7 linked regions of the Homo sapiens genome follow. The protein of the gene in region 2 purifies or fractionates together with the protein of the main gene of each other region. This does not show direct contact. Each region holds a gene or a part of one and is shown on either strand. Other genes may lie near its edges.

The links.
Region 1: the proteins of NES (region 2) and RNF13 purify together in Homo sapiens (affinity purification with mass spectrometry; one large-scale study listed by BioGRID and IntAct). This does not show direct contact.
Region 3: the proteins of NES (region 2) and CLTA purify together in Homo sapiens (affinity purification with mass spectrometry; one large-scale study listed by BioGRID and IntAct). This does not show direct contact.
Region 4: the proteins of NES (region 2) and CEP135 purify together in Homo sapiens (co-immunoprecipitation; one large-scale study listed by IntAct). This does not show direct contact.
Region 5: the proteins of NES (region 2) and NCAPD3 purify together in Homo sapiens (affinity purification with mass spectrometry; one large-scale study listed by BioGRID and IntAct). This does not show direct contact.
Region 6: the proteins of NES (region 2) and SVIL purify together in Homo sapiens (affinity purification with mass spectrometry; one large-scale study listed by BioGRID and IntAct). This does not show direct contact.
Region 7: the proteins of NES (region 2) and SLC25A22 purify together in Homo sapiens (affinity purification with mass spectrometry; one large-scale study listed by BioGRID and IntAct). This does not show direct contact.

The regions. Positions count from the first base shown.
Region 1 is NC_000003.12:149,956,215-149,959,426, reverse strand, and holds part of RNF13 (E3 ubiquitin-protein ligase RNF13 isoform 1 precursor), read right to left. Parts: intron 1-3,212. UniProt on the Homo sapiens protein: E3 ubiquitin-protein ligase that regulates cell proliferation. Involved in apoptosis regulation. Mediates ER stress-induced activation of JNK signaling pathway and apoptosis by promoting ERN1 activation and splicing of XBP1 mRNA.
Region 2 is NC_000001.11:156,674,608-156,678,645, forward strand, and holds the start of NES (nestin), read right to left. Parts: upstream 2,801-4,038; 5' UTR 2,658-2,800; coding exon 1,875-2,657; intron 734-1,874; coding exon 609-733; intron 1-608. UniProt on the Homo sapiens protein: Required for brain and eye development.
Region 3 is NC_000009.12:36,204,421-36,207,920, reverse strand, and holds part of CLTA (clathrin light chain A), read right to left. Parts: intron 3,201-3,500; exon of another isoform or gene 1-3,200. UniProt on the Homo sapiens protein: Clathrin is the major protein of the polyhedral coat of coated pits and vesicles.
Region 4 is NC_000004.12:56,007,945-56,011,444, reverse strand, and holds part of CEP135 (centrosomal protein of 135 kDa), read right to left. Parts: intron 3,119-3,500; coding exon 3,063-3,118; intron 1,711-3,062; coding exon 1,542-1,710; intron 34-1,541; coding exon 1-33. UniProt on the Homo sapiens protein: Centrosomal microtubule-binding protein involved in centriole biogenesis. Acts as a scaffolding protein during early centriole biogenesis.
Region 5 is NC_000011.10:134,213,968-134,217,467, forward strand, and holds part of NCAPD3 (condensin-2 complex subunit D3), read right to left. Parts: intron 3,132-3,500; coding exon 2,969-3,131; intron 1-2,968.
Region 6 is NC_000010.11:29,526,972-29,530,471, forward strand, and holds part of SVIL (supervillin), read right to left. Parts: intron 2,874-3,500; coding exon 2,734-2,873; intron 86-2,733; coding exon 1-85.
Region 7 is NC_000011.10:792,629-795,281, reverse strand, and holds part of SLC25A22 (mitochondrial glutamate carrier 1), read left to right. Parts: exon of another isoform or gene 1-18; intron 19-112; 5' UTR 113-275; coding exon 276-295; intron 296-380; coding exon 381-506; intron 507-693; coding exon of another isoform or gene 694-768; coding exon 769-824; exon of another isoform or gene 825-829; intron 830-1,662; coding exon 1,663-1,753; intron 1,754-2,293; coding exon 2,294-2,412; intron 2,413-2,515; coding exon of another isoform or gene 2,516-2,554; coding exon 2,555-2,653. UniProt on the Homo sapiens protein: Mitochondrial glutamate/H(+) symporter. Responsible for the transport of glutamate from the cytosol into the mitochondrial matrix with the concomitant import of a proton. Plays a role in the control of glucose-stimulated insulin secretion.

The sequences.
Region 1 (3,212 bases), on a different chromosome or scaffold from region 2:
TATCAGTTTTATAATCATAGAAATTTATTAATTCATAGCTCTTTTTGGAGTTCCAGTGTTTTTTAAGTTTTTAAAGGAACTAGCAGTTTTTGTTTGTTTGTTTGTTTGTTTGTTTTTGGAGACGGAGTCTCGCACTTTTGGCCCAGGCTGGAGTGCAGTGGCATGATCTTGGTTCACAGGAACTAGCAGTTTTTTTAAATACAGCAGCTTTTTCAATTAATAGTGGCTTAGACACCACTGTGAATGCTTGAAAGCACTTTTGTGAGTTTTTTTCCACTACATGAATATGTTAGATAAAAACTTATAAAACTTTTAGGGACAAAAGACAGTTAAATTCATTGCCTATCCCACACGGGGTAACAACCTTGGAAGACATATCAGAAATAAAGCAATTATCTGGATGGATAGTCTGGATGAACATGACACATAAAAAAGGTGCTGATAGTTCTTCTGAAACAATCCCTTTAATGTCCTAGTCATTTAAAACACACATTCAGGAGAAGCCCGAAATAGAAAGCTTTAATGAAAATTACTAAGTTTTGTCCATTACCTTGAATTTGGTTACTATAGTATCTAAATTACATTCTGTAACAAATGCATATGTACATGTGTTAGAATCTTGTGTGTGGAATTTGGTGAGACTTATTAGACTCAACTATTAGAAGACTAAAGGACCTCTGATATATCTGCAATTATTGTTTTTAATTATAATTACATAGATCTATTTACATGGACTTTGAGGACAGATAGTTATGCAATTCAATCATGACTGATTTCTCATACAAATCAACCTTTGAGTCACATCACCTTTTGAAAACGCCTACTAAAAACAAAACAGTTAATGTAGCTGAACAGGAACTGACTGTGGCTCAAAGCTGTGCCAAGGCTCTAAGGCTCATTTTATTGAGGTAGGGAGATCAGCCTGTATTATCCATGTGAGCTCAATGTGATCACAAGGGTTTTGAAAAGTGGAAGAAGGAAGCAGGAAAATTCAGAGTCGGGGCGATGTGGCTACAGATGAATGGTCAGGGAGATGCAACTACTGGCTTTGAAGATAGGGGGAAGAAGGGTCACAAGTCAAGGAATTGAGTGCCCTCCAGAAGCCAGAAAAGGTAAGGAAATGGATTCTTCCCTGGAACCTCCAGAAAGGAACACAGTCCTGCTGACACCTTGGTTTTGGCCCTGTGAGACCTGTGTCAAACTTCTAACCTATAGATAATATATTTTTGTTGTTTTAGGGCATTAAGCTTTTGTTGATTTGTTATCAAATAAATAGGAAACTAATACAGGTATATTTGGGTTATCTTTAAATGTATAGACTTGATGATTTGGAATCACTGAGCTTTCTTATCAATCCTTTGAATTGTTCCAAGTAGTAGATTTATATTAATATCCCATATTTTATTGCCGTAGCACTTAGTTTGAAGATGACAGGTCAAGATTCCAAGGTACAGTTTGTGATCATGGACCAAACTGGAGCTTAGTGCTCTGTAGCAAATTAACCTTTATGGCCTTGGACTTGTGATGAAATGGTAAAGCACATATTAGAATGCCTGAGGTTCCCATCCTGGTCCTTTTATTAGCTATGTAACTTTATGTAAAACACTTATCTTTATGTTTGTTTTCTCAAAGGCAAAACACAAACATTAACATAATTATGTATTAGGGTTGTTGTGAAGATTAAAAGAGATAATGCAAGTAGAGTAATTTACATGGTGTTTCGCACATACAATACCTCTTAACCAATTTTTACCTAGTAAAACTAGCCGATAGGCATACTTACTTATCACATGGTAGAAGACTGGCTAGGAGGCTATTCTCTAACCAACCTTATGCTTTTGTCCCAACAGATGATCAGCTGCATGCTTACAAAAGGCTAGTGGCAGTGGTCATTGAACCTGTTTGTTTTACTTAGGGTAATTATGTAATTTAGTTAAATATTCAGCAGTCCATAAACTGTGAGTGTAAAAGACTTCTGGTTTTATTTGAAAGCTAGGTTGAATGCATTAGAAATACTTTAAAAAAAAAGCTAGTTGCTCCCCTCAACCCATCCCCAGTCAAAAAGTGGTTAAATTGGGTATGGGTAAAAAAACTAAAAGACTGGACAAATGTAGAAAGCAAGGATGAAAGCAGAATCCAGTTTTTCCCCCACTAAAATACTTGAAACTAAAAATGGTAGAAAATGCTTCATGTACCATGGCAATTTGGAAATCCAGCCAGTGGATTCATACTCAAAAGGCTGTGGTCCAACATCAATTGTTGAGTGGATTTACAATTACATTTAAAATAGAAATTAAAGGCATTTATCTATTTTTATGATTTATAAGATTTTAAACATTACCTACTGGCTCTGGTAGTATTATAAAAGGGCTATAACAAGTGCTTTATAAGTGTTAGTTTTGTTACTATTAGCACCATGAGTTGGGTTCTAAACTGGGGATGATTTTGCTCCCAAAGGACATTTGGTGATATCTGGAAACAGTTTTGGTTTTCATAACTGAGAGTTGCGGCTGGCATCTTGTGGACCAGAGATGGTGCTAAACATCCCATAATGTACTGAACAGCCCCCTAAACCAAAGTACCCCATCTAAATGTCAGTAGTGCTGAGGGTGAGAAACCCTCATAGAAACCCCTGCAGGCTAACAAAACTTTGCTAATTCACTAGTGGATAAGATGTCAGAAGTTGTGGAAGAAATCAGATTCATGTCTGTTATATGAAACAATAAGACACACTTTTGTCTGGAATGTTTTTGGAACTGCTGTAGAATAAAGTTTCAGAAAAATTTCATGAAGGTACTTTTAAAGTAAATCTCATCAATCTGGGAATGTTAAAACATGTAGCTGGACAGAACTTAGATTGTCTCCTCTTTAAACTTGTTCATCCATGATTTTTCCCCATTTCAAGCCCAAAACTTTGGCTCATCAGATACAGAAAAGTATTGGCCCTTCATAACAAGACTCACACAAAGACCTAGGTAGCCAAGGCAGTGGCATGAACTAAATATCAGGCCTAGGCCTATCTTTGATGCTTCTTTTGCTTAGAGCCTTCATACCATCTGTCACCAGATCCTGGAACCTTTTATCTGCAAAACATGTCCTGAATCTTTCCCCTTCTCTCCATCACCTTGATTACTCTGGTCTAATCTTCTAGATTATGCTAAGAGCCTCCTCTCTGGTCTCCCATCTAGTCCTGCCCCATGTAGTTTTTAGCA
Region 2 (4,038 bases):
AGAAGCCACCCCTCCTTGGTCTCAGCCATTTCTAGGATAACAGAAAATGTGGACAATGAAAGGCTGGGCAGGACCAAGGGCACTAGGGGCATCAGAGGAGTCTCGCCCCATGACATCCAGGCTAGAAGAGGCCTTGGAAGTCCCCCAGCCCAGCCCTCAGCCCCTAGACGAGGCTGAGGCCCAGGTCAGGTGGCAAGTCAGTGCAGCCACCCCATGCCTGCAATGCCTCCTTTCCGTGGCTGCCAAAGGACATGACCCCCTGGGTGCGGGCACACATAGAGTTGGAGCTTTGCCCCTTGGGGGAAGGGTCTGGATGCAGTTGCCCCACACGGGCCCAGCCCCTCTCCAGAGGCTGTCCCGCTCGGCAATATCATCTCTCCTGGGGGGATTTCCTGGGCACAGGACATTGCTCAGGTCTCCAGCCTATGGGGGAGCAGACGGTTTCAGGCAGGACATGTTCCGGTGTGGAAGTGACCAGCCTAGAGTCACAGAACCCAGTGGCAGCAGAGTTGCCATCACCTACACCTCTGGTCCCCTTCAGCCACGTAGTCTGCCCCAGCATGTGTGTGTGCCTCTGTGTGCCTGGGTGGACAGGGCTCGTCTCGTACCTGTACGTGGCCACCTCCAGGCTGAGGGACATCTTGAGGTGCGCCAGCTGCTGCCGACCTTCCAGGACCTGAGCGATCTGGCTCTGTAGGCCCTGTTTCTCCTGCTCCAGGGCCTCCACAGCCAGCTGCAGGGCAGGCGAGAGGCAGTCAGTGGAGGGGCTGGGGTCCCTTCTGTGAACCAACCTGCCTCCTGCCCGCTGCCGCTGCCCGGGAAGCACCTCCTGCTCCCTGGCTGACTTATCTGTGTAGCAGACCCCCGCCTCCCCTACCCTATTCCCTGCCCAGAGAGCCCCCTCTGGATCAGCCAAGATGAGCCCAGGGCCCCTGTCAGCACTCTCAGCTCTCTCCCATGGCCTGCTCCTCCTCTGAGGATGCTGATTAAATGGTAGCACATGTTGCTCAGAACACAGCTCCCACAGGAAGGGGAGGTGAGGGAGGAGACGAGATGGGTTATGGAGAGAGAAGAGGGGGAAAAAAAAGCGAAAGCAGAAGGAAAAACGATTAATCAAGATGCCTGGAGCCTGCAGGACTGGAAGGCAAACAGCCCCCGTCCCCCGTTGGTCCCATCTCCCACAACTGTCTCCTGCTCCTCACAGCAGGCTCTCACCCCCGCCCCACCCCCATTTCCCACATGTTCTGGATTCTGTCTCCTCTGAGAGGAGGGATGGGGAGGTGGCCATGGCACCTCTGTGTGGCCCAGGCAAGAAGCTGTTTTCTCAGCTGCTGGTCACATCTGTGCCCTGTGAGAAGGAGCAGCTGTTATGGGCCTCTGGAATGTGCTCCAGGGAGCCGAGAAGCCATGACATGGGAGGGGGCTGGTAGCCATTCATTCACGGCCCCTCACTCCTCCCCTCAGGAGAAGGAGGGCTGTGAGGAACTTGGTGATTCTGAGTGGCCAGGCCACCAGATTCAGCGCAGAGGCGACAGTGCTGGGTGTCCTCCTAGTAATACCAGAGCCTGGGAAGGGACCCGGAGCCCCGGTCATCATCAGAGCCAGAAGGTGCCATCCAGAGAGTGGCGGGGCTGCTGCAACGGGTCTTGGGCCTGACTGCCCACCCGGGATGTGCTTCGAGAAGCCCCACCATTCGCATCCTACACTAGACGGGCTGTAAAAGTCTAGGACTTGTGGCACCAGGTTTCTGAGAACTGGCTCCTGATTCAGCAGCCAGCTAGCCCCACTCCCTTCCCAGAAGGTCTCTGAGCTTCATAAGGGACTTTCTGGAGCTTTCTGGGACTTTCTCTCACCCAGGCCCTCAACCTCCTCACCTGGAACTTTTCAGTAGCCCGCAGCCGCTCCTGCCAGCGGCCCTCCAACCTCTGTTCCAACGCTGCCCTGCGCTCCAGGAGGCCTCCGCGCTCAGCCTGGAGCTGCTGCAGCTCCAGGCGGCCCTCGCGGGCACCCTGCACCGCCCGGCCCAGCCGCTCGCGGGCCTGGCCCAGCGACGTCTCCATGTGTGCCACGCGCTCCTGGTAGCCGCGCACTGCCCCGCGCCACGCCTCGCCCAGTCGCCTTGCCAGCTCCTCTACCTCCGGGGCCGGCGCGGGAGGCCCGCGGGGCGGCGCGGGGCAGCGGGGGGCACAGGCAGCCTGCGCGTTCAGGCCGACGCGCTCCTCCTCGTGCGCCACGCGTAGAGCCTCTAGCTCGCGCTCCAGCTCTGCCACCTGGCTACTCAGCCAGGCCCGGGCGCATTTCTCTGCCTCGACGGCGCGCCGGTTGCGGGCTACCTCCTCCGTCGTCCGCTCCCGGGCCAGCCGCAGCTGCTGGCATCGGCCTGCCACGCCCTCCAGCTCTTCAGCCAGGTTGTCGCGCGCCACCTCGGCCGCGTGCTTCTCCCGCCAGCGTTGGTCAACGAGGGCCCGCAGGGCCGCCAGCTCGTCGTCGGCATGCGCCCGCCAGGAGGTGTCCGCGGATTGTGCCCGGAGCCCCCCGAGCTCCGCGCTGAGCAGCTCATTCTGCTCCTCCAGCGCCTTGACCCGGGCCAGGTAGGCCTCCAGGCGCCGATTGAGCTCCCACATCTGAAACGACTCCTCCCCCATGCAGCCCTCCATCCTGCTCGTCTGACCCACTGAGGATGGACAGACGCGGGGCACCGGGAGAAGGGAGCGGCTCGCAGAGCTTTTAGGACGGAAGAGAAAAGAGACCGACGGGGACAATGACGGGGCGGGGCGGGGTGGGAGTAGCCTGAGCGACTGAGAGTCGGGAGTGGGAGCGAGGCTATTCATACTCCCGCCAGGCGGGCGGGAAGAGGGGCGGGACCCAGGCCTTAACCCCTTAGAGGTCAGAGAGTGGCAGCAGCCTCTGTTCCTGCTTCCCCAGGGTGCTGGAGAGTGGAACCAAAGAAGAAGCTGTACCATGGAGAATCGGATCTGATGGTGGTGGCTTTCTGAGGGAGGAGGCTGTGAAGAAGGGTCACAATCCCCGAAAAAGGCAGATAATGCACAGAACTGAGCCTGTGGGGGTGGGAGTACCAGGACGTTCCAGCCTGGGAGGGAGTGCAGTCTCAGTTACTCAACACATCCGAGAGAGGTATCACTTACTGAATTCCTCTAAGACTCAGTTTCCTCATCCATAAAATGTGAGCAATGATGGAAATCGCATGGCTGCTGAAAAAAATGGATGTGGCCAGGTTTTTGTTTTTCGTTTTTGAAATAGCAAATGCTCCTCCTCCTGAAATACTGGAGAGAGTACTACAGCATTGCAGAAAGAAGCTAGAGAGACGCTGCCTGGAAAACAAGAACAAATGTCTGATATTAGGACACACGGATACACACACACACACACACACACACACACACGCACACACGCTATTGCCTGAGTCTCCATCAGAAAAGGGAGCGACCAGGTTAAGGGCCGTCATGGGCTTAAGAACGTTTGTCCATCCTTCCTACAAGTCTTCTGTATAACTGCGAGGTTCAAACATCCGCTTTAGGAAGTTCTGTTCTTGGGGAAGGGCCCCTTCTCCCGCACCCCCTGCCAGGGAATGTTGGGTAGTGGACGCCCTCTGGCGGCTTTCAGAAGTGGAAGCAGCAGGAAGAGGCCATTCTTTTCCTTCCTAACGACTAGCCCAAGTTTATCCAGCCTTTATGATGTGCCCAGTCGTGTTCCAATATTTTACTTCCATGATCTGACTTAATCTTCAAAACAACCTTTTAAAGATTCTACAGTTTATGAAGTAGAGAGCTCACCAAGGGTGAGAGTAGTAGGGAAGGCTTTCTGGACGGAGTGCATCCTTGAGCTGGGAGGTAAAGGACAGGTGGGATTTGGGGGATTTACAGTGAAGGAGAAGTAGGGCTGGGGAGGAGATGCAGGGATAATGAGACGGAGGGGATCTTTGGGGAAGGCGTTTCTGATCAAGCTGCTAAATCCAATTTAGCTCAAGTGTTAATTGAGTACCTACTATGTGTCAGCACCAAAGAGATTGCAGGAACT
Region 3 (3,500 bases), on a different chromosome or scaffold from region 2:
GCAGAATGAGTGGGAGGAAAAGGCAAGGCAGGCTGGCTTATAAACCCATAACCCTTTTAGTTTACACAAAGGACTAAACCTGATCGATTTCAACTTGGGTTTCCCTCCACAAGAAGAGTAGAGGTTTCATGACTCCTGTCAAATCATCACTAAGACAACAAAAGTTTGAATGTCAGGCTCTTGCTCCTTTGCAGCTAGCCCAAGACCAAAGAGCTCCTCAGTGACAAGCACATCCCCTGTCAAGGTTGCAGGCCCAGAACAAACAGAAAATCAGACACACACACAGGTGGCCCTCCCCTTATTTGTCCTTCACTTGAAAGTAGCAATCCTCAGCCAAGGCAGGAAGGGGCTCAGGGAGGCTTAGGAGAGGGGAGGGAAGAGGAATACCTGACCTAGGACAAGCTCTGGAGGCACGAATACAATGCAGAACTTCATTCCATAAACAGCCTCAAAGTGGGCACAGAAAAAAATGTTTGCCATCTCTGAGAACTGTGGGTTCCCCAAACCTTCTCAAGCCTTGAAAGAGCTGACAAGCACAAGTGCTACCTGTAATAGGGGAAATGTTCTGGGGTTGTTCTTGATGAGCAAACTCATCCAGCTGCAGGAGTCAGTCACTGCTCTGGCTGGCTGGCTATGAAAAGGAAATTCTTTTCCATGGCTGTCACTGAATAATTCACAGCTCTTGTACTGTGACACTTAGGCCTCAACTTGGGATAAAAGAAGGGAGATGCAGTCTGGGGACTGACAATAGAGTACAGCACACCCACCCCCAGTGCAGTGCCAGGCGCGACGTGCTCCTAGTGCTTTGGTGACCCAGTGGTGAGGCAGCTGGAAGGCAGGAGGCCTGAGGATGCTCTCACAATTAACTGGATGCCCTTCCTGTCTCCGACTTTCCTCTTTCAAACTTCTCATCTTTCTGCCTTATCTCTCGGGTCCCCTTAACATCTAGCTACTGCAGAAGTCACCCAGAGAGAATCATACTTGCTTGAAATGAGCACCCCGTTTTCTTTTTTCTTTTCTTTTTTTCAGACTGAGTCTCGCTCTGTTGCCCAGGCTGGAGTGCAGTGGCGCAATCTCAGCTCACTGCAACCTCTGCCTCCCGGGTTCTAGTGATTCTCCTGCCTCAGACTCCCGAGTTGCTGGGATTACAGGCACACACCACCACACCCAGTTAATTTTCGCATTTTTAGTAGAGATGGGGTTTCACCATGTTGGGCAGGCTGGTCTCAAACTCCTGACCTCAAGTGATCTGCCCGCCTCAGCCTCCCAATGTGCTGGAATTACAGATGTTGAGTCACGGTGTCCGGCCCCCATTTTCTTTTCTAAAAATATTCACTCTTTACCCATAGACAGATAACAAGGATGAATTACTTTATACATCTAAATGGGACCTATTCCTTTGAACTCTAAAGTTTAGAGTCAAACATGGATGGAGAGGGGGAGTAGTCAGCAATATAAAAATCTCCAGGGGAGGGTGTAGACCCTTGGAAGAAGTCCCCCAAAGTGACTCTCAAATGGATCCCACCTCCAACCAGTGAAGAATCACTGGAATAAACTGTAAAAACCATCTCTTCTGTCCTAGAGCCCTGGTGACAATGGCTAGTGTGCCACTAGCGTTATGCTCTCAAGAGTCAGCCCTGTGCTGCAAGGTTCCCACAAGGCAAGTGACCTGCTTCCTAAGCAGCTCTACATTCTCAGTGAGCAGTGGGGAAGTTCCTTCTCTCTGGAACTTAAGAGGTTCATCTGTGAGACCAGCTTACCCAGCATTCTACAGTTCCAAGTACAGAAAGGTACCAAGGCCCAAATTCAATGCCTGGAGGGACTAAACTTTTAAGACTGAGCTCCTAAAAACAGGTGTCATGGCCAGGCGCGGTGGCTCACGCCTGTAATCCCAGCACTTTGGGAGGCCAAGGAAGGCAGATCACGAGGTCAGGAGATCGAGACCATCCTGGCTAACACAGTGAAACCTTGTTTCTACTAAAAACAGAAAAAAATTAGCTGGGCATGGTGGCGGGCACCTGTAGTCCCAGCTACTCGGGAGGCTGAGGCAGGAGAATGGCGTGAATCCAGGAGGTGGAGCTTGCAGTGAGCCGAGATCGCACCACCGCACTCCAGCCTGGGCAACAGAGCAAGACTCCATCTCAAAAAAAAAAAAAAAAAAAAAACAGGTGTCATTACTCCCTCTGAGAACAACGGATTCTGTATACAGAGAATATCCCTTTCTTGACAGTTCAGCAAAACTTCCTTGAAAAAAATTTCTGCAACAGAAAGGCTGTTACCAACATATTCATTATCTAAGTTTGAAAACTTGTGTTAAGTTATTGACGCATCACAGACCCAGAGCGGGGAGGGTCGGCACAGCTACAGTACTTCAGACTAAACTTAAATGCTGGGGTCGCAGGCTGGGGGAGTTCTCAGGGCTCGCAGGGTGCTTGCACACAGTCCCCACTCGGCTTTACCGATCTGAACTTCCACCTGGGAGAAAATCATCTTGAGGGAGCAGAGGACACAGGAGCCTGGACCTGTCAGCACCACCTACTGACCACAGGCTCAACAACAGCCCCACGTAGCTGATGGAAGCCATCACCACTGGCAACCCAGCCTGCACACCAGAGAGCAGTCCTGTGGGACTGGGACTGTGGAGTCCTGTGGACTCCACATGGAACCTGACAGGCACTCCTTGAGCACACCGCCCCCAGAGGAAAGTGACCAGGACACAGGCTCAAGCCGGAATCCAATGAGCTGAAGGGCTGCTAGCATATAAAAGAGAGTCCAACTGCTCTGTCATACTGGACCCACAATAGCACTGGCTGGCTGGCAAAGCCGTTAGCTCTCTCTCCTGCCACATCTCTGTCTAACAGAGCTGCCAGAGACAAGGGCACTTAACCCAACCTGCTTCCTGCCTCTGCATACGAGAACCCAAGGCTCTACCCTGAAAATTAAAAATATCCCCAGGCTCGGTCTGGCCCGTTTATACACTGAAGTGAATGGATTGACTATTCAGTGAAAGTTGGGCTCTGAACCTGCCTGCCCTGAGGGAAGCAACACCACATATCCTCTCTTTGCTGCTTCCAAGAAGGGCTCTAAGTGTAGGGCATTAAAGCCCAGCTGCTGGTGAGTAGTGATATGAGAATGAAAGCGTTTTTCTCCTCACAACTCCTTAACCATCAGTAACTAAATAAAATCTATTTCAAACAGAACATTTTTAAGAAGTCAATTCAAGACTTTTTAAGGCACAAATAAGTACCCACAGAACCCTCAATTCTAAAATAATCATGTTGGAACATCCTTGGCTGCCTAATTACAAAGCACATATTCCTGCCAACGGACCCCTTCATGAAGTGGCTTTCAGGGGGCAGGGCTATATTGAGGAGACTCAACATGACCAAGTCTATAATCATATCCAAAGTAACTAGATCTGGGTGTATTCATGACACCCAGCTTTCGTTTCAGGGTTCCATGGAAAGTAACTTTTCCCTTGGCTGAATCACACCATTACA
Region 4 (3,500 bases), on a different chromosome or scaffold from region 2:
TTGCACTGCTGCTTCCAATTCCAATGAGATTTCCTACAAATCAGAAAATTAAAGACAATCTAAAATGAACACAACACCAAATAAATTTTATTTATATTCAAATAATTCCTTTGGAATTGGAGAATAAGATAGAGTAGGGCAAAAGGAAAACTGTTCCTAAGTGTTATTTTCACATATTTTTCCTGGCTGATCTTGCCTTTTAAAATATTTCAGACAGAGTCTCATTCTGTCGCCCAGACTGAAGTGCAATGGCGTGATCACAGCTCACTGCAGCCTCGACCTTCTGGGCTCAAGCAATCCTTCCACTTCAGCCCTCCGAGTAGCTGAGACCACAGGCACATGTCACCATACCAGCTAATTTTTTTTTTTAATTTTCTGAGATGAGGTCTCACTATGATGTCCAGCCTGGTCTCAAACTCCTGGGCTCAAGCAATCCTCCCACTTTGGTCTCCGAAAGTGCTGGGATTATAGGCGTGAGCTACCACGCCTGGTCTGATACTGACTTTTTAACCAAACTTTATCACACATTTCCCATAATAGTCCTGATCATGTATCTGGCATTTACACTAAAGGCTAGCTATGGTCAGGGGTTGACATTAAAAAACATTCATATTTCATCAATATGCTTTATGCTGAATAATACGGAAAATAATTTTTTAAAAACGTAAGATGTTTAAAACAGTAAAATCACTGGTTTTCTCAGTACAATCTTTTAAGAAACCAGCACGAACAGAACTAACACCTTTCAGTACTTGCCATTCTAAAACACTCATTCATTTATCTACAGGTGTATTTTGGAGCCGACAGAAGCTTGCACAAATAATTAAAACCTATCCTGAGTCTTTAAAACACAGAAACTTTGCTCTGGGAGGGATGCTGATGTCCTCGCCCGGTAGGGTGACAATGATTTCTGACATACAGAATTTCATGCTCCCACCTTTAGGTTTCCTTGCAACAAAGACCAAAATGGTGAGAAGACCAGTTGCACCCATTAGACACCCTGTGATATATAGCAGCATTCTAAGCTATGTGTTTTTTTTTTGACAGAGTCTCACGCTGTTGCCCATTTTTTTTTTTTTTTTTTGGATGGAGTCTCACTCTGTTGCCCAGGCTGGAGTGCAGTGGCACGATCTCGGCTCACTGCAACCTCTGCCTCCAGGTTCAGGTGATTCTCCTGCCTCAGCCTTCCGAGCAGCTGGGATTACAGGCGCATGCCGCCAGGCCTGGCTAATTTTTGTATTTTTAGTAGAGATGGGGGTGGGGGGGGGGTTTTCACAATGTTGGCCAGGCTGGTCTCGAACTCCTGACCTCAAGTGATCCACCCACCTCAGCCTCTGAAAGTGCTAAGATTACAGGTGTGAGCCACTGCGCCCGGCCTAAGCTCCATTTTTTAATACCCTGATAAACACCATTGTCCTTAATGAATTATTTATGTCACTTATTTTTATATCATCAGATTTTAGAAAAAATATTTAGAGCTTTAATATTTAGCAAACAATGGAAAGTATAAAACTATCAAAATTTATGCCTTGTGTTCATACTTGATTTTCTCTTGCCATTGTAGCCAGGTCATCTTGCAGTCTTCTGTTTTCCTTAAAAGCGATTTCTCTAGATCTTCCTACTTCATCGAGTTCTTTGTGAGCTGCATCAAGCTGGCGCCGGAGGCTGTTTATCTCACGATCTCGATTAACCAATGTTTCTTTCAGCTGGCTGTTAAATGAGTGATGTGAAACTAATAAAGAAAACTTTTAAAAACTGTAGTTCATTTAAAAGAAAACTTATAGTCTAAGTATACTTAGAATACAAATATACTGTGATTATAAGAAATTATAACTGCTGCATTAAGAGACCTATTAATTAGGTAGAACAGGTATTTTAGAGCTCTACCAATAATTACATGCAAATGAAGTTAAAAAAAAATGTTATTCCAACAGTCAAGTAAACACAGAAAACTTTCAAGTGTTAAAAGTTGAATAGCTTGGGGGCTGGGCGCGGTGGCTCACGCCTGTAATCCCAGAACTTTGGGAGGCCGAGGCGGGCAGATCATGAGGTCAGGAGATAGAGACCATCCTGGCTAACACGGTGAAACCCCGTCTCTACTAAAAATACAAAAAAAAATAGCCGGGTGTGGTGGCGGGCACGTGTAGTCCAGCTACTTGGGAGGCTGAGGCAGGAAAATGGCGTGAACCCGGGAGGCAGAGCTTGCAATGAGCCGAGATCGCCCCACTGCACTCCAGCCTGGGCAACAGAGCGAGACTCCGTCTCAACAACAAAAAACAACAACAACAACAAAAACAGTTGAATAGCTTGAGCCCAGGAGTTCGAGACCAGCCTGGGCAATATAGGGAGACGTTGTTTCTACAAAAATTTTTTTTTAAATTAGCTGAGCGTGGTGGCACACGCCTGCAGTCTCAGCTACTCAGAAGGCTGAGGTGGGAGGATCACCTGAGCCTGGGGAGGGTGAGGTTGCCGTGAGCAGAGATCTCGCCACTACACTCCAGCCTGTGCGACAGAGTGAGACCTTGTCTCAAAAACAAACAAACAAAAAGTAAAGCATAGATTCAATTGGCAAATATTTATTAAATGTTTATAATCCCCACTATTATATAAAATGTTAAGGGTATGTAAAATAAATATAATAAGTGACTTTTTTCTTGAAGTGGCTTACAATCTGCCTAGAGAGACTATACATAAAATGTAAAATTTTGTGACAGTGCTCAAGATAGGTTTAGATGGAGAATAAATTCGAGATTGGCTACTAAAGTAATTTTAGGTTTTAATGATTAGGCTCCAAGTGGCATAATTATAGTAAAAATAAGGAACAAATAGGTATATAGGAGAATAGTTAATAAGACATAAGTGTTTAGATGTGGATGACAGAAAAGGAGAGGTTAAAGAAGATAACATTTTCAAGCTGGAGACTGAGAAAATGATGCTACCATTGACAAAAATGGGGAAATTGAAAGGGAAATTCTTCTATTGCTGCAATGCTACTGAATAGATAAAGCTGTATTCACTGAAAATCTCCTAAAAAGCTGGATGTAATTTCATTAATGACTTACTTCACAGATGATTCACACTCTGAGATCATTATCTTCATTTGAGCAACAGCTTTTTCCTATAGAAATTACAAAAATGTGTAAGATTTTAAACCAAAATGTCTTTAGCTAAATTTATGTAACTTGTCATATTCATATAGTTCAAATACACAGCTCAATTATATAAAGTATGCCTAAAACAAAGCTCCAAGTAAACATATCTCCATGTCCCAATCATACTTCACATACTGGCATGTTTTGACCAACCCTTGAATAGTTTTCTTGAGTTTGCTTTAATGAGATCTGATAAAATCACATTCTAGAAATAGACAAAATCACATTTTGAAGATTAACATTATTTGAAAAAAATGACATTTAAACATTAGAAAATATGGCCCTAGGTCTTAGAAACTTCTACATGGCCAATAATAACTGCATATTTGGGAAACTTCTGGGTCTAAA
Region 5 (3,500 bases), on a different chromosome or scaffold from region 2:
TTCTTAGAGATTCCAACATTCCTCTCTCAACAACAGATAGAACAAATAAACAGAACATCAGGAAGCATATGTAAGTCTTGAATAACATTTGTAACCAACTTGACCTAACTGACATTTACAGAATACTAGATCCAACAAAGGCAAGGTACACATTCTGTTAAAGTGCAAATGGAAGATTCACCAAATTAGACTCTAAGTCCATTAAAAAAAAAGGCACAACTAAATAATTTAAAAGTATCATAATCATATGAAGTATGTTCTCTGATCCCACCAATTAAAACTCAATTACAGTAAGATTTCAGGAAAGTTCAAATATTTGGAAAATAAACTCAATTTACTAAACAACTCAGAGATGTAAGTAATGACAAGAAAAATTTGAAAATCACTTTGGCCTGCACAACAGTAAAAACATATCATCGAAATTTGTGGGATGCAGATGAAGCTGTACCTGGAGGGACATTTATAGTATTAAATACTTGTATTAGAAACAAAGAAATGCATGTGAGAACAAAGATCTAAGCATCTACCTTAAAAAGTCAGAATAAGAGCAAATTAAACCCAAAGTAAGAAGAAAGGAAATCGTAGACATAAGACCAGAAATCAATGAAACAAGAAAGGGACAAACAACAGAATTTAATTAATGACATCAAAAGGGGGCCCTCCAAAATGAACAGTAAAATGAATAAATCTCGATCTAGATTGATCAAGAAAAAACAAAATACAAATCACCAACATCAGGCATGAGAGGAGATCACTAGAAATTCTACAAACATAAACTTCTTTCAAAAAACTCCAGGCCCAGATGACTTCACTAGTGGGTTCTACCAAACATCTGAAGAAAAAAGAAAACCCAAAATCTTCCAAAATACAGAAGAGAAGGGAATACTATGTAACTTATTCTATGAAAATGGTATTACCAAGATACCCAGATACTCAAACCAGACAAAAATATCTCAAAAAAAGAATATCCCTTATGAATATAGACAAAAAACCTTCAACAAAATATTAGCAAACACTCTGACAACATATAAAAAGGATTATACACCATGACCAAGGTCATACAAAATTGGTTTAATATGTGAAAATCAACCAATGTAATATACTATATTAGAATAAGAAACAAAAACCACATGAGCACTTCACAAGTGCAGAAAAGCGAATGACAAAATCCAACAGCCTTTCATAATGAAGCACTCAGTAAACTAGGAATAATAACTTAATAAGGGCCATCCTGAGAAACCCACAGGTAACATCATACCTAAAGGCAAGACTGGATGCTTTCCCCTTAAGATCAGGAATAGACAAGGATCCCCACGCTCCCCTTCTATTCAACACTGTACTGGAGGTTCTAGCCAGGGCAAATAGGTAAGAAAAATAAATAGAAAGAACCCAGACTAGAAAGAAAGAAGTAAACCTGTGTCTATTCACAGATGACATGATCTTACACAAAGAAAACCCTGTTGGAACCAACAAATGAGTTTGGCAAGGTTCTAGGATAGAAGATCAATAATCAAAATCAATTTTGCTTCTATACAGTACTAATAAACCAAAATAAAATTAAGAAAACAATTTCATTTACACTAGCATTGAAAATAACACTTAAGAATAAATTTTAAAGGGGAGATGCAAGAGTTGCGCACCAAAAATTATAGAGCATTATTGAAACAAATTAAAGAAGATCTACAATAAATGGAAAGACATCCTGCGGCTAGGGATTAGAAGACCTAATGTTGTTAAATTGGCAATACTTCACAAACTCATCTACAGTTTCAATGCAATCCCTGTCAAAACCGCAGCTGGCTTTTTTATTGTTGCAGAAATTCACGTACAGATCCTAAAATTCACATGGAAATGCAAGGGAGGCAGAACAACCAAAACGATCCTGAAAAAGAATATACTGTGATCGAATGTTAAGTATCGACAGCATCCCAATCATAAACCCGAAACATTTAAAAACAGAAGGTAACTGGCAGGAATACGGCTTGCTGGAAAGCTGCAAGTGGCCCACGCAATTAGTAACAGCCACCTCTTTGCTCTGGCATAAATCTCAACCTTAATCAGAAGAAACTGCATCTGGCAAGAGGAGAGTGAAACTGGGTTTCTAAAACCACTACTTTTTTGAGAGAGGGCCTAGTTACAACCGAGACACTGCTTAGCAACAAAATCCTTTAGGAACTTACTCATTTCCAAAGTCATGATGGGAGCATTAACAACAACACAAATCAATGTTCAGGGCTTTAAATATAAGACCTTTTTGCCCATTCCCAGATCACATGGAATAAATCCTTTGCTAAACATTTGTAATTAAACAAAGATAAGCAGCAAGGTGACTGATCTTGCCATTCTCTTTTCCATATGAACTTCAGGTTATCTGACTCAATCTCTATGTTCCACTCTCTCTCACCCTGTGTTTGGAGTAGGGAAGAGAATGGATTTCACTGTCATAGGAGGAACAGCCTCCTCAGTGCTCTGACAATCAAGTAAAACAGTGCTCGAAAACAGACTCCTGGTCAGTGCTCTCCTTCAAGTATTACTAGCTGCTTTCCTGCTTTCTTGATTAGAATGGTTTTAATCTATTTTTCAATACCAACATCGGAGAGGTAAAAAGCAATGACTCCCCACAGCAGTATTTCTCAGTCTAGACAAGGAATCATGAGAAGAAAGGGCAATATCAGAATTTTAGACGGCCGTGGTGGAGGGTGGGCGTGGAACTCTTGCACTCCTTCTCAGACTATTTTTATTAGTTTATAGATAGCATAACTTCGGATGAAAAAAAAAAGGGGGAAGGTTTTCCAAGACCTATAACATGCCATGTACTTTAGAGACTTGCTCCTCGCAACAACTCTCTGCCATGGGTTAGCACTGCCCCATTTATAAGTGAAGAAACAAGAAACAAAGTATAAGAATTGAAAACTGTAGAAAGAAAAAAATGACAGAAGATTTATCCTATCATATCAGGTCTACATACCTGGTACTTCTAGTAGCAAAAAGTAAAGCCCAGCGGCATGAAGGCCATATTCTCGATACTGTACACTGACATTCTTCTTATGAACTATTTGAACAAAATGATAGAACAATGCCACCAGTGTACTATGGGAAACATTGTTCTCAATGAAGAAGGTCCAGATACTCTGTGGGGAGACCGCAAATCACAAAAGCCAGTCATTAGAGAAATGGAAACATTTCCTATTATTTGATTTTTGTAAGTTCTTGGTGCCTTACAAAAAGAGGAATAGAGTAGCCTGGCTCCTACTGCTAAATGTTTACCATCTTCAAAGGGACTGAAACAAAATATCAAAATTAAAGGTATATTATTCAAAATTACCAAGATAAATATGTATATAACATATTTAAATAATTAAACTTTCAAAAGAATTTTTTGTTAAGTTTGTAGCATATATACTTCAGAAATTATAGCTTAAAACTACACTAAGACTTTTGGGACACCATATATTAGTGATTATTCAGGAAAGTTATCCCTCTATTTATATTAAAAGGAA
Region 6 (3,500 bases), on a different chromosome or scaffold from region 2:
CACAGCGCTCCTAGCTACAGTGGGGCTAGGAAGTCTCGCCATTACAGGGTGGGTGCCCCCAGAACACGAAGCGGGGATAGGTTCACTTTAAAAGCAATTGCCAAAGAGGAAACATTCATAAGGAGAGAGAAGAAAAGAAGCATTAAGGACAGCATAGTTTTAAATTCAGAAACGTTAAATCAAAAATTTTAACAGAATATTTTGCTAATTATTTTTGGGGAGAAAAAATCACGAAAGAACTTCAAAAGCAAATACAAACTCAGGAAATAAGAGATAGTGGCTACCCAAAGCAAATGGGGTAAGAATAGGTGTTCAGAGCTGGGAGGATTTACTCTGTCTTGAGAATACATGTCTTGGTGTAAAAAAAATAATAATTCAAAAAAGCAAATATTAGCTATCAAAAAATCAGTAGATTATGTCTGTGTTTTAGAATATTGTTTCCAATCTAATTTTTTTCTTTCTTTTTCTTTTTTGGAGATGGAGTCTGTCTCTGTCACCAGGCTGGAGTGCAGTGGCATGATCTTGGCTCACTGCAAACTCCGCCTCCCGGGGTCAAGTGATTCTCCTGCCTCAGCCTCCTGAGTAGCTGGGATTACAGGCGCGCACCACCACGCCCAGTTAATTTTTGTATTTTTATTAGAGATGAGGTTTCACCATGTTGGCCAGGATGGTCTTGATCTCTTGACCTCGTGATCCACCTGCCTCAGCCTCCCAAAGTGCTGGGATTACAGGTGTAAGCCACTGGGCCCAGCCTTTTTTTTTTTTTTTTTTTTTGACAGAGTCTCACTCTGTCGCCCAGGCTGGAATGCAGTGGCGCGATCTCGGCTCACTGCAGCCTCCACCTCCTGGGTTTAAGCATTTCTCCTGCCTCAGCCTCCCGAGTAGCTGGGATTACAGGCGTGCGCCACCATGCCTGGCCAATATTTTTGTATTTTTTAGTAGGGACGGGGTTTCACCATGTTGGCCAGGCTGGTCTTGAACTCCTGACTTCAGGTGATCCACCCACCTCTGCCTCCCTAAGTGCTGGGATTACAGGTGTGAGCCACTGCACCCGGCCTCAATCTACTTTTTAAAAGTATCAGTGTTCTTATACAATCTATAGGCACATCAAGGTAGATTTATTGAGCCTTAAAATGGGATTAATTTTTCTTATATTTACTGTTTTGCTCCCATGGGTATCTGCCTGTTATTTTACACCAGCCATTCAAATATTTCTTTTTTTAAAAAACAAACTGATTTGCAAAGAGTTCCTAATGAGTGCAAGGATATACTTAGCTACAAATGCACCAAGAAACTGAGGAACAACTCGGGGAGGAACTGTAGGCAGCTGATCTAACAGCAGGTCTACAGAACGGGGCACTGACATAGAGGCCTTTTGGGATGTCAATAACCTAATGGGATGAACTATTTTTTTTTCCAGGAAGGGTGTCTGTGTGTCCAAGGTAAGCACAAAACCAATTAACAACATCAACAACAACAAAACTAGGCTGGGTACAGTGGCTCACGCCTGTAGCTCCAGCACTTTGGGAGGCTGAGGTGGGAGGATCGCTTGAGCCCAGGAGTTTAAGATCAGACTGGGCAACATGGCAAAACCCCATCACCACAAAAAATACAAAAATTAGCCAGGTGTGGTGGTTGGGCCTACAGTCCCAACTACTTGGGAGGCTGAGGTTGGAGGGTCAATTGAGCCCAGGAGGTTGAGGCTGTAATGAGCCAAGATGGCGCACTGCATTCCAGCCTGAGTAACAGAGTGAGACACTGCCTCAAAAAAACAAACAATGCCCCCCGCAAAAATAAGAAAATTTTTCACTTGATTGAAGCAATGATCTCTGAATGAACTACTCTGGGAAATTAATTCTGAATATATTGAAACATATTATTCAAAACAAACTTCCTATTGTTTGGAAAGTTATCAAACTGCAATTTAATTTTTAGAAATTTCTGGCAATTAATCCCAGCACTTTGGGAGGCTGAGGCATGGATCACCTGAGGTCAGGAGTTTGAGACCAGCCTGGCCAACATGGTGAAACCCCGTCTCTACTAAAAATACAAAAATTAGCTGAGTGTGGTGGCACATGCCTGTAATCCCAACTACTCGGGAGGTGGAGGCAGGAGAATCGCTTGAACCCAGGAGGCGGAGGTTGCAGTGAGCCGAGATCATGCCACTGCACTCCGTTCTGGGTGACAGAGCAAGACTCTCTCTCAAAAAAAAAAAAAAAAAAAAAAAAAAAAGAAAAAAAGAAAAGAGATTTCTGGCAATTAAGAACAAAACAAACCTTATCTTTTAGAGGGGCGTACTGGGATATTTATGGATGAAATGGTAAGACCTCTAGTGTTTGCTTGAAAATAGCACAGGAGGAAAGGGGAAATGAATGGCACACGGGCTGAGCATCACCGGCCAGGAGCGGGTGACCGTGGAAGCTGGGGTTTCATCACAGCAATCCACCAAGTTTCATGTTTCTATTTTCCGTTGTCAAAGAGATTTTTAAAATATCAATATGCAGAGACAGAAACAAAATAGAACAAAAACTCCTTTCAAGTTTTTCTAGAAGATACACATCCCATTACAAAGTTTAGAGAGACCACAGTAAACAAAATCCCTTAGTACTAACTTCTCTGTGGCTTCTAGCTAAATCACCTCCCCAATGCCTCATTTTCATTGAACACTCTTTAAATGTATTTTTTTAAAAAAAGACACTATAGACAAGGCTGAGAAGTCCTGTGGGCACTTACGTGGCTGCGATGACCACCTCTTCAGTGGTGATGGGCTGGGTGAGGGACCTGTCCTGCAGACGGCGTAGCCTCTGCTCCACAGCTGTGTTTCTTGAGCGTCGCTTTGGAACATTTTGTTCATCAAAAGATTTTTCCATCTCCTAAGATTAGAAGTATTGTGGAACCCTTATAAATTCAAGGAAAGAGCTGGGCACGGTGGCTCACGCCTGTAATCCCAGCACTTTGGGAGGCTAAGGAGGGAAGATTGCTGGAGGCCAAGAGTTCAAGACCAGCCTGGGCAACAAAGTGAGACCCCCTCATCTCTACAAAAAATGCATAAATTAGCCAGGCATGCTGGCACAGGCCTGTAGTCCCAGCTACTTGGGAGGCTGAGGTGGGAACATCACTTGAGCCTGGGAAGTTGAGGCTGCAGTGAGCTATGATCACATTGCTGCACTCAACCCTGAGTGAGAGAGTGAGACCCTATCTCTAAAAAAAAATTAAAAATAACAAAGAAATTCAAGGAAAGGAAATGGGGGTAGTAAAAATTCTTCACTTTGTTCTCCTACAGGACCTACAGGAGGGGTCACTAATGAGCACCTCGTATTGTTGTCAGAAGTGTACACTCATGCTGTGTCCATGAGGTGGCCACAACCAGCCAAAGATTAGGAAGAGAACAACAGGTGGGCCAGAGGCAGGAGGGCCTTAGCATGCCCAGAGGTGCATGAAGTAGGCTGGGTCCACAAGATTCCCCCTCCCTAAGGCTTACAATTTTTATTTTTTTTGAG
Region 7 (2,653 bases), on a different chromosome or scaffold from region 2:
CGGCTTCAGTCTGGGGTGGTGGGTGAGGGGCTGCGTGAGAGAGGGAGGCTGGGGGAGGATTACTCTTCGGGTGGCCCCACCCTCACTCATTCCCATTCCCTCATCCTTCTAGGACAGAAGTGGCGGTTGCTGACGCCTGGAAATTCCCCTGAAGGTGGAGCACCACCCAACCCCCCTGGGTCCCACCCTCCCTCAAGGCCTCCTCCACCTCCACCTCCACCCCGCCTGGCCTGGCGTCCACCTCTGCGGCTCCTACCTGGGTGCAATCGAGTTAAATGGCTGATAAGCAGATCAGGTCAGACTCCAGTCCTGGCTGCGTGCCTCACCCCCACCCTGACCCATGGTCAAGGAAGCCGGTCCTGACACCCCTGTCCACACAGCCTGCCAGCCAAGCTCATCAATGGCGGCATCGCCGGGCTGATCGGTGTCACCTGCGTGTTTCCCATCGACCTGGCCAAGACCAGGCTGCAGAACCAGCAGAACGGCCAGCGCGTGTACACGAGCATGTGAGTGTGCCGGGCGGTCGCGGGGAGTGGGCCCAGCATGTGGCAGCAGGAGAGGTGGGGGCTCTGCTCCTGTGCCCCCCACCCTGTTTGACAGAAGGGAAACGGGAGGCAGGCGGGCCTAGGGGAGATCCCACGTGGGTCAGGACTGGGGTCGGGGCTGGGCTGAGGACTTGGCCTCTTCTATCAGCCCTAGACAGTCCAGGGACCCTGGCCTCCGGCTGGCCCCAGCTGGCCCTGGCTCACCCTGTCCCCTTGGCCACAGGTCCGACTGCCTCATCAAGACCGTCCGCTCCGAGGGCTACTTCGGCATGTACCGGGGTGAGGTTTGGCTCGGCTGGGCTCGATATGGGCAGGCCTGGGTAGCGCCCGCGAGTCGTGGCAGGGAGCGGTGGGGGAGGCAGGGCAGGGCGGCCAGCCTGGGCCTGGTGTGTGAGCGTGGACGTGTTTGTGGGGGCTGTGCCTGTGCAGGGGGGACTGGATCTCTGGTGAGTGGTAGTTCTCAGCCTCTCCCGTGGCAGCTCCCCACCCCCACTTAGTGCCTGGTGCGTGGGATGCCATGGTACATCTGTCTCTTCTCTGGTGGCCACAGCTGCCTCTGCCTTCTGGGCCAGGCTGGACCCCGTTTGTGGCTGGGGATGGGAGGGAGTAAGGGGCATTACCGCAAAGCAGCTTAGGACACAATCCAGAGCCTAGATTTGGCAGAAGCTCTCCAGCCCTGAGCCTTCGGCACTGAGATGGGGGCTCTCCACAGCCTCCCCCGAGCTCTGGCCCAGTCCAGACCACACACTCCTGTGACCTCTGGCCCCAGCCCCCTGCCAGCACAAGCACCATCTGTCCTCCAGGGAGGGAGAGGTATCCTAGGGAGGCCTCAGGGGCTCCGGGGCAGTCCTCATGCCCTGAGCAGCAAGATGCTGCCCAGAATCAGAGACAGATGGAGCTGCAGTGGGCATGGGAGAGCCTGAGCCTGAGGTGCTGCCCCATCCCTGCCTGGCCCCGCCCCACCTGGCACACACCAGGCCCAAATGTGGGTGAGAGAACAGATGGTGGCCAGGAGTGACTGGGACAGGGTTTTGCCAGCCAGGAGGCAAGTCCTGGCCAAGCGCCTCCCCACTCAGGCCACCGAGCATGTCCCCCCAGCTGACCCCCTGCCCCACAGGAGCTGCTGTGAACTTGACCCTCGTCACCCCCGAGAAGGCCATCAAGCTGGCAGCCAACGACTTCTTCCGACATCAGCTCTCTAAGGACGGGTGAGGGTTCTGCCTGGCAGACACTCGAGGGGTCTTTGGCTTCAGATAAAGGATGGGTCCACCCTGCCAGCTGGGTCCCACCTGGGGGCTCTGCCTGTCTTCAGCCCCTTGCTTGGGGCTTCTTTGACCTCGTGGGGCACCCTCCCTCCTTTCCCCTGACCAGGGGAGCAAAGCAGATGTCAAATCAGTGGGGCTCTGGCTTGGTAGCCCTTGGCCTGAGGGCACTGACCAGCTCCCCCATCACTGGAGGGGGACTGCAAGGGCAGCCCCTTTTTGGGGCACTTGACCCCCAATTTCCCATTTTCCTTTGTCGCAGACAGCCCCACTGCCCTCCCCAGGCCCCTGCCTGTGGGGCCGTCTGTCCATCGGTCTCCTCCCTGCCTGCTGCTGCAGTGGCGGAGGCTGGGGGCTGTACCCCCACAGGCCTGCATCTGCCTCCACGGCTCCCACCATCCTCTGCGCCCAGGCATGGTGGGCAGCCCCGAGGGTGGCAGGTAGACCTGTCTCTTCCCACTTACTGCGGCCCCGCCCCTACCACAGGCAGAAGCTGACCCTGCTTAAAGAGATGCTGGCGGGCTGTGGGGCTGGCACCTGCCAGGTGATCGTGACCACGCCCATGGAGATGCTGAAGATCCAGCTGCAGGATGCAGGGCGCATTGGTGAGGGCGGGGGGAGGGGGAGGAGAGGGCAGAGGTGCGGGAAGAGGTGAGGGCGAGGGGAGGGTGGGGACGCAGGGAGGGCCAGAGCGTGTCCCCTGCCCAGTTCGCACAGAAGAGGAGACAGCAGCCTCTTTGTCCCCAGCCGCCCAGAGGAAGATCCTGGCTGCCCAGGGCCAGCTCTCGGCCCAGGGGGGTGCCCAGCCCTCAGTGGAGGCTCCAGCTGCCCCTCGGCCCACGGCCA